Homo sapiens: one gene and its partner. The protein of the gene in region 2 purifies or fractionates together with the protein of the main gene of each other region. This does not show direct contact. Each region holds a gene or a part of one and is shown on either strand. Other genes may lie near its edges. The genes, in order: PDLIM5 and NFATC2IP.

What was found.
Region 1: the proteins of NFATC2IP (region 2) and PDLIM5 purify together in Homo sapiens (affinity purification with mass spectrometry; 2 studies listed by BioGRID and IntAct, with this or other methods). This does not show direct contact.

The regions. Positions count from the first base shown.
Region 1 is NC_000004.12:94,458,218-94,462,037, forward strand, and holds part of PDLIM5 (PDZ and LIM domain protein 5), read left to right. Parts: intron 1-3,820. UniProt on the Homo sapiens protein: May play an important role in the heart development by scaffolding PKC to the Z-disk region. May play a role in the regulation of cardiomyocyte expansion. Isoforms lacking the LIM domains may negatively modulate the scaffolding activity of isoform 1.
Region 2 is NC_000016.10:28,957,255-28,961,074, reverse strand, and holds part of NFATC2IP (NFATC2-interacting protein), read right to left. Parts: intron 2,493-3,820; exon of another isoform or gene 2,414-2,492; intron 2,359-2,413; coding exon 2,214-2,358; intron 2,085-2,213; coding exon 1,975-2,084; intron 1-1,974. UniProt on the Homo sapiens protein: In T-helper 2 (Th2) cells, regulates the magnitude of NFAT-driven transcription of a specific subset of cytokine genes, including IL3, IL4, IL5 and IL13, but not IL2.

The DNA of each region.
Region 1 (3,820 bases), on a different chromosome or scaffold from region 2:
TTATGTAAAATTACTGGGATATTACTGGTCATCAGGTTCTTTAATTAATAGTATCAAGAAACAATTAAAACCTGAAAGCATGCTTAAAACATGTAATTTAATGATTCACTTACTTTAATAATGCACATGAAATTCTTAGCAAGGTCTGGCAGTCTCTCAATTATCTTTTATAATAATATTATAAACTTTAAAAAGAAAACTATTTAGAGACTTGAAACATTAAATATTTAACCCCCGTAGTTGTAGGGAACATACAGTTATGGTTTTGTTTTGTTTTTTTAAACTTATTGTCCACTGAAATTAAGAAAGGAAAAAAAATCAGAAGTTTGTACTTAGCTGGGAATCTGCATCTTTAGAGTTCAAAACTGTGCAATTTTTCCTCTGATTAGGTATTATTATGTTGAACTCCAAAGGGTCATTTACATTCCTTTATAACACTGGAGCTCTGGTGTATCGAATTGTGTTATGAGATAAGCCACTAGCAGGGACTTGAACATTCCATTTTCTTTAGATTTTGTTGTATCAGCATGTGAATATGCTGAATACAACTTGTATCCTAAAGCATACAAGCTATAACATTTTCACGTTGGACTCAAATTTCTTCATCATCTGTATTGTATGAATTTTGTATACTGTTTTGTTGGTGGATTTCTAACATAAGATTGCCAGTTCCTGCTAGCTTTTTAAAAAGATCCTCAGGTTGCTGTAGCTGGATGATCACATGTCATTTAATTTCCGATCCTTAAAATGGAGTGCGGGCTACCTAAGTTTGCAGGCTGTCTTTTTATGATCCTGTGTTTATGGAATTGCCCTGAAGCCATGGAATGTGAGGATGGGTTTCATTGTAGCAGTGTGGGTTTGTTGGTTTTTGCCAGTATATTTTATAACAAGAAATAGGAGACTTGTTGGATAATTCAAGGCTATATTTTGGCCAGTTGATAAAGATTATATATTTGTGAGTAACATCTTTTAAGTTGTTATATCCTAAAGTTGAAATACTCTGCTGTGTGTTACTTTCTCATTATGTTTGGGCTCTTTTCTTCACTGTCAATATTTGGATTACCTGAAGATGATATCCCAATTCTCTGTAAACACATTTTAGATGTTTCTTTAAGAGATAAGAATTAGGTCAAACTTTTTAACATCTAAATAACAATGACTTTGATTCTCAAGAGTTAGGGGAGGATAAATTGTTATAAGCTTGGACAAAATTCTAATTGGATTTGAAAAGCAGAAGAAACTTACTATTGCTTGGATTATGGAGCCCTGTTTGGGAGTCTAACACAGAACAGAGAAGGACAGAATTGTGAAACACTTTGCTATGAATTCATTGATTCAGTAGTTATAGTAATACTTCCTAGAAGCCACTGAAGAAGATACAAAGTGGGGAGTACAAAGGTTGGATGGAAAAGAAATAAGCACAGTGCTATAGAACTAGACAGTGTCGTAAGACCTGTCACAAGTCAATATTCTATGAAATGACAGATTCTGATAAGTGTTTCTCAGTTTCAGTGGGTGTAAATCTTTTGTTTGTGGGGGTTGGTTTCCTTTAGGAGAAGTTAATTGAACTGATCCTCAAAGGATGAAATTTAAACACCTCAAAGTCAGCATTTCTCCGTGTTGTCCAGTGCCTAGTGAAGATGAAGACTTTTCTTGCCATTGCTTGACTCCAAGTAAAGCTGTGAATGTAGTTGAGCGATTCTCCAGACCTGCCAGCTGCAGTTTCCCTCCTACCGGAAGACAGAAAGACTTTCAGTCCTCAAGCTGAAATGAGAGAGCCATCCTACCTTGAATAAATGGGCCCATTGTTAATTTTAAGCTCTTGAGTATTTTCTTTTATATTCCCTCCAAGCTACCCTGTCATTATGCCAAGTTAGAAAATTAATTTAGTTTGTATAACTATATGATGTATATTTCACATGTGTGTTCACTCTGCTTTAAAAATATTAATTACCTTTTGTGTGAAGTTCAGAGACCTGTCTTTTCCCATGTGGCAGTTTTATATGTTTTGTGGTCACAAATGTCAGGAATCTCAATGTAATTCTGGATAAATTTTTCTGCTCTATGATTTGTAAAGAAATGAAAATCTTATATTTTTTAATTGAAAATTAGTAGTTTTAGAAAAAAACGCACTTATTTGATTTTAGTAAACGTTGGGCATTTTGAAAAGTTATTCAGAGAAATGTTACTGGTAGGCAGGACTTTTGTATCTGATGGAGGAAACCGATGTAGGGTTTGGATAAAATAAGACTAGCAGGCTGGGCACAGTGGCTCACTCCTGTAGTCTCAGCATTTTGGGAGGACAAGGTGGGAGGATCACTTGATACCAAGAGTTCAAGGTTACAGTGGGCTGTAGTCATGCCACTGTACTCCAGTCTGTGCCACAGAACCAGACCCTGTCTCAAAAAAAAAAAAGAAAAAAAAAAAGGTAAGAATAGCACTTTAGACCTTGGGAAAGAACGTTTTCATGTAACTATTCATCTACTCGTGAGTTAGGTATATCTACCTACTTAAACTAAGAATAGATAGATAATAGATAATGTACAGCTGTATATTGGAATGACTTGGATTTAAATCTTAGCTGGAAAATCAGTTCATTAATTTGAGCTTCTGATTTTCTTTGATGTATGGGAAATGCTTTATAAATTAAAAAGTATACAGGTAGATTTGATTATTATTAATAATTTGGAGCCTGTGAGCTTTCAATTTTTTTTAGAACTTCTGAGGCAAAGAGCTTTTCTTTATGATAGTTGCTAGTCACACTACATGTGAATACACAGTTGAACAGTGGTCTTTGTCTATGACATCCTGTTAGCAGTAGTTCTTACCCAGATTCCCATATACCACAGGACCAGTTATATCTTTTTCCCCCAGTTACAACTGTATTGAGGACAAATCAGTTATGATTTAGTTATTTCTAGAAGCAAACGTTGCTTTAGACAAAAAAGGAGTTATTTAGCATCGTATGAGAGAGAATTATGTTTCAACTTTGGCAGATGAGACTCTAGGCCTTTATTTCAGTATCTGAGATGCAAAAAATATTGAGTACGTGACATAAAATTTGACAAAACTAGATATTAGCATGTGAAATAACAATATGTGGATCTGTTTGCAAATAAATGACCTAATGGAAATGAAAAGAGAAAACATTAAGTAACTAAAGAGCAGTGACCATGGTGTCTACTGATTCTTTAGGTATTCTATGTGTTGGGCCACTATATAGTCTTGTTGAGAAGGCAGGTTTGGTTCCTTAATTAACAGAGAGGGAAAAATCACTTTTCTAGCGTACTTTGTTTTTATTAAGAGGTTTTTTTTTTAAAGGTAATAAACTAAGAATGGACAAAGCAGAGAATATTGAATGAGTATCCCCTTATTCCTTCACCTTTCTTATTTTTTTGTTTCCTGTTTAAGTATAGTTATCTACCCTTCTGTAAATACTCAGATTTCTTTTATAGCTGATGTTGTCACCCATTTTTTATGACAATTACTAGAACAGAGTTCACCAACCTTGTTGGCATTTAGTAACTGGACTCCCAACTGGGCTAAGCAGTTGTAGTAAATGTCCCTAATAGGCGTAAATAGAGGAGAGTAAAATGAACTGGAAATGTTAATAGGAGGGAATGAGAAAGAAAAAGTTAGATGAGAGAAAAAAATAAAGAGGACTTTTTAAAAGGCTGCAGCGTGTCACCCAGGCGGGAGTGCAGTGGCGCGATCTCGGCTCACTGCAACCTCCACCTCCTGGGTTCAAGCAGTTCTCTGCCTCAGCCTCTTGAGTAGCTGGGATTACAAGCATTCGCCACCATGCCCAGCTAATTTTTTT
Region 2 (3,820 bases):
ATTACAGATGTGAGGCACTGTGCCTGGCCAAAGCTGCAAGAATTTTGAGGTGTATGTTAGGAAAAACCTAGACTGCCTTGAAGAGACTGCTGGTAGAAATATGGACATTAAAGGGAATGTCCCTGCAGGCTCACAAAGAGGAGAGGTGCAGAGAAATCTCCTATCATCTTAACAGGATGCATATATTGTTATGAACAGAAGGCTGCTAGAAATATGAATATTAAAGGTGTTTCTGGTGAGGTCTCTGGAGGAAATGAGGAATGTGTTATTGGTAACTGGAATAAAAGTTTCCAATAAAGGTGGCGCAATCATGGCTCACTACAACCTTGATCTCCCAGGCTCAAGCAATCCTCCTGCCTCAGCCGCCTGGGGAGCTAGGATTACAGGTGCTGGGGTTACAGGTGTGAGCCACTGCACCTGGCCCAATTTCTCACTTTTGAAATGGGAATGTCTATCCTATGTCTGTCCCATCACTGTATTTTAGAAGCAAATAACTTATTTTCTAGATTTCACGGGTCCGCAGAGAGAGAGAGAGAGGAATTTTGTCCCAGAATGGACCATACCAAGTCTCATCCAAAACTGATTTAATGATTTAGAAAATAAGATTGGGACTTCTTGAGTTGATTATATTTAAATGAGATTTTGGGCTTAAGAGTTGATGCTGGGATGGGTTAAGACTTGTAGGGATATTGGAATGGGATGTATATATTTTGCAGATGGGAAGGCCATGAATTTGGTGGGGGCTAGAGAACAGTGTGTTAAGGGTTGAACTGTATTCCCCTGAAAAGGCACTTTGTGGTCCTAACCCCTAGTAAATGTGAATGTAACCTTATTTAAAGTAGGGACTTTGCAGATATAATCAAGTTGAGATGAGGTTGTGCTTGGTTAGAGTGGGGCTAGCCCAACATGACCTATGTCTTTCCAAGAAGAGAGACGAACACAGACAGAGACACATGGAGAACACCGTGTGATCACAGAGGGAGAGACTGGAGTGACACAGCTGCAAGCCAAGGAACTCTGGCCACCAGCAGAAGCTAGAAAGAGGTAAGGAAGGTTTCCACTCAGATTCTCAGACGGAACCAGGCCCTGCCAACACCTTCAATTCAGACTTCTAGGCTCCAGAAGTGTACAGGAATAGGTTTCTATTGTTTTAAGCCACCCAATTTGTGTATTTCGTTAACAGTAGACTTAAGAAATGAATGCAGCAGGCCAGGCGCGGTGGCTCACACCTGTAATCCCAACACTTTGGGAGGCCAAGGTGGGTGGCTCACTTGAGGTCAGGAGTTTGAGACCAGCCTGGCCAACATGGTGAAACCCTGTCTCTACTAAAAATGCAAAAATTAGCCCAGCACGTGCACCTGTAATCCCAGCTACACGGGAGGCTGAGGAAAGAGAATCACTTGAAACTCGGAAGGCAGAGGCTGCAGTGAGCCAAGATCATGCCAGACTTCAGCCTGGGCGACAGGGCGAGACTCTATCTCAAAAAAAAAAAAAAAAAAAAAATGACTGCACCAAGTTGCTTATTCCACCTCTCTAGAACTCAATCTTCTTATTGCCAAATGAGGATAACAACAGTGCTTTGTGGCCCACATCAGATTGTTGTGAAATTAAATAAGATCCTGAATGTGAGGAAATTATCCTCAGCACGGGGACTAGCACTTAGCCGTGTGGCCTTCATTGTTATTTTGATGGGTTTTATTGATTACCGTCTAAGGGTCCTTTCTGTTTTAATCAGAAGGAGTCAGGAGACCGAGGGAGCACCCAGACTAGGGCAGAGGGTACCAGTAGAAGCGGGGAGGGAAGTTGAACGATGGGTTTTCCCACTACCTAGGATGGCTGGGAACCCAAGAACATGGAGGGCAGTGTCTCCTGCAAGTCAAGATTAGGGGAATCCATCCTCCATTAACTGACAAGAGAGACAAGAGGCAGCAGAGGACAGGGTGAGGGGCGTGGAGAGCCATCTCTCCCACTCACTCGAGACAGTGAGACTTCCAGTGTCTGGTGTTTCTCCTTTCCCTGCACCCGGAGCTGGAGCTGTTGGGACGTCTCTGTGGCCTCTGGAGAACTTGTTAGTACCACACAGTCTGTGGGAGGCAGAATCAGGAAGCCAGGGCTAAGTGGGGGCTTGGAAGCAGGGCCCGTGCTGAACCTCTCCCCATATCCCCTTCCCCTGGCAAATGCCTCAAGGCCCCACCTCCCTGCCTTCCTCTCACCAATGATGTCAGCCACTCCGAGCTTTAGGGTCCTGGGAGTGGCAGTAGGTGATAGCTCTGTCTCTCCAAAAAGCAAAAGGATCCTGCTTGGGGACACCCCAAGGTGGGTGGCCATGTGGTCCACCACACTCTGCAGGGGCTCCGACTAGGGATGGGGACAACAAGCAAAAGAGGTCTTCCTGCCTTGAAATCCATGCCCCCAGCCACACCACCCAAACACAAGCTCTGGCCTTAGCTACTTGCTAAGCTCCTCAGCTGTGAGTTTCATCATATTTACCTGGCAAGGTATAGAATAAAATCGTGTCAGCAAGGGGTACAGGCGAGTAACACAAAGAAATATAGCAGCCATGGGTTAGAACAAAGAAAGGGGTGGTGGGGATTGCAGCAAACTGGAATTCACATGCCACCTAGACAGGCTGGCTGTTACGCAGCTCCAGCTGATTGGCACTGTGTGGGAACGTGGGCCAGTATGACATCTTCCTATATTTTTCTTTTTTTTTTTTTTGAGACGGAGTTTCGCTCTTGTTAACCAGGATGGAGTGTAGTGGCGCAATCTCAGCTCACTGCAACCTCCGCCTCCCAGGTTCAAGTGATTCTCCTACCAGGCTGGTCTTGAACTCTTGAATTCGGGTGATCCACCTGCCTCGGCCTCCCAAACTACAGGGATAACAGGTGTGAGCCACCGCACCTGGCCACATCTTCTTATTTTTTAAGAGAAGCCAGAAATCTGGACCTTTTTTTTTTCTTTCTATTTTTAGTAGAGGCGGGCTTCACCATATTGGCCAGGCTGGTCTTGAACTCCTGATCTCAGGTGAGATCTGAGGCAGAGTCTCGCTCTTTCATCCAGGCTGGAAGGCAGTGGCACCATGCCCAGCTAATTTTTGTATTTTTAGTAGAGATGGGGTTTCACCATGTTGGCTAGGCTGGTCTCGAACTCCTGACCTCAGGTGATCTGCCTGCCTTCACCTCCCAAAAGTGCTGGGATTACAGGCGTGAGGCACTGCACCCGGCCAGAAATCTGGACCTTTGTATGAAATCACCCATCACAAAGGTGACAACAAACTCGTATATTTTTAAAGCACTTGGTCAGGCATGATGGCTCACACCTATAATCCCAGCATTTTGAGAGGCCGAGGCGGGAGGTTTGCTTGAGGTCAGGAGTTCAAGATCAGCCTGAGCAACAAAGCAAGATCCCATCTCCATTTTTTTTTTTTTTTAAGAGACAAGGTCTTGCTCTCTCACCCAGGCTGCAGTGCAGTGGCATGATCACAGCTGACTGCAGCCCCCAACTCCTGGACTCAGAAGATCCTCTTGCATCAGCCTCCCAAGTCGCTGGGACTACAGGTATGTGCCACCATGCCTGGTTAATTTTTTTATTTTTAGTAGAGACAAGGTCTCACTATTTTGCCCAGGCTGGTCTCGAACTCCTGGCCTCAAGTGATCCTCTCACCTTGGCCTCCCAAAGTGCTGGGATTACAGGAATGAGCCACCATGCCTGGCCCCCATCTCTATGTTTAAAAAATAAAATAGGCCAGGCACGGTGGCTCATGCCTGTAATCCCAACACTTTGGGAAGCTGAGACAGGGGAACACTTGAGATCAGGAGTT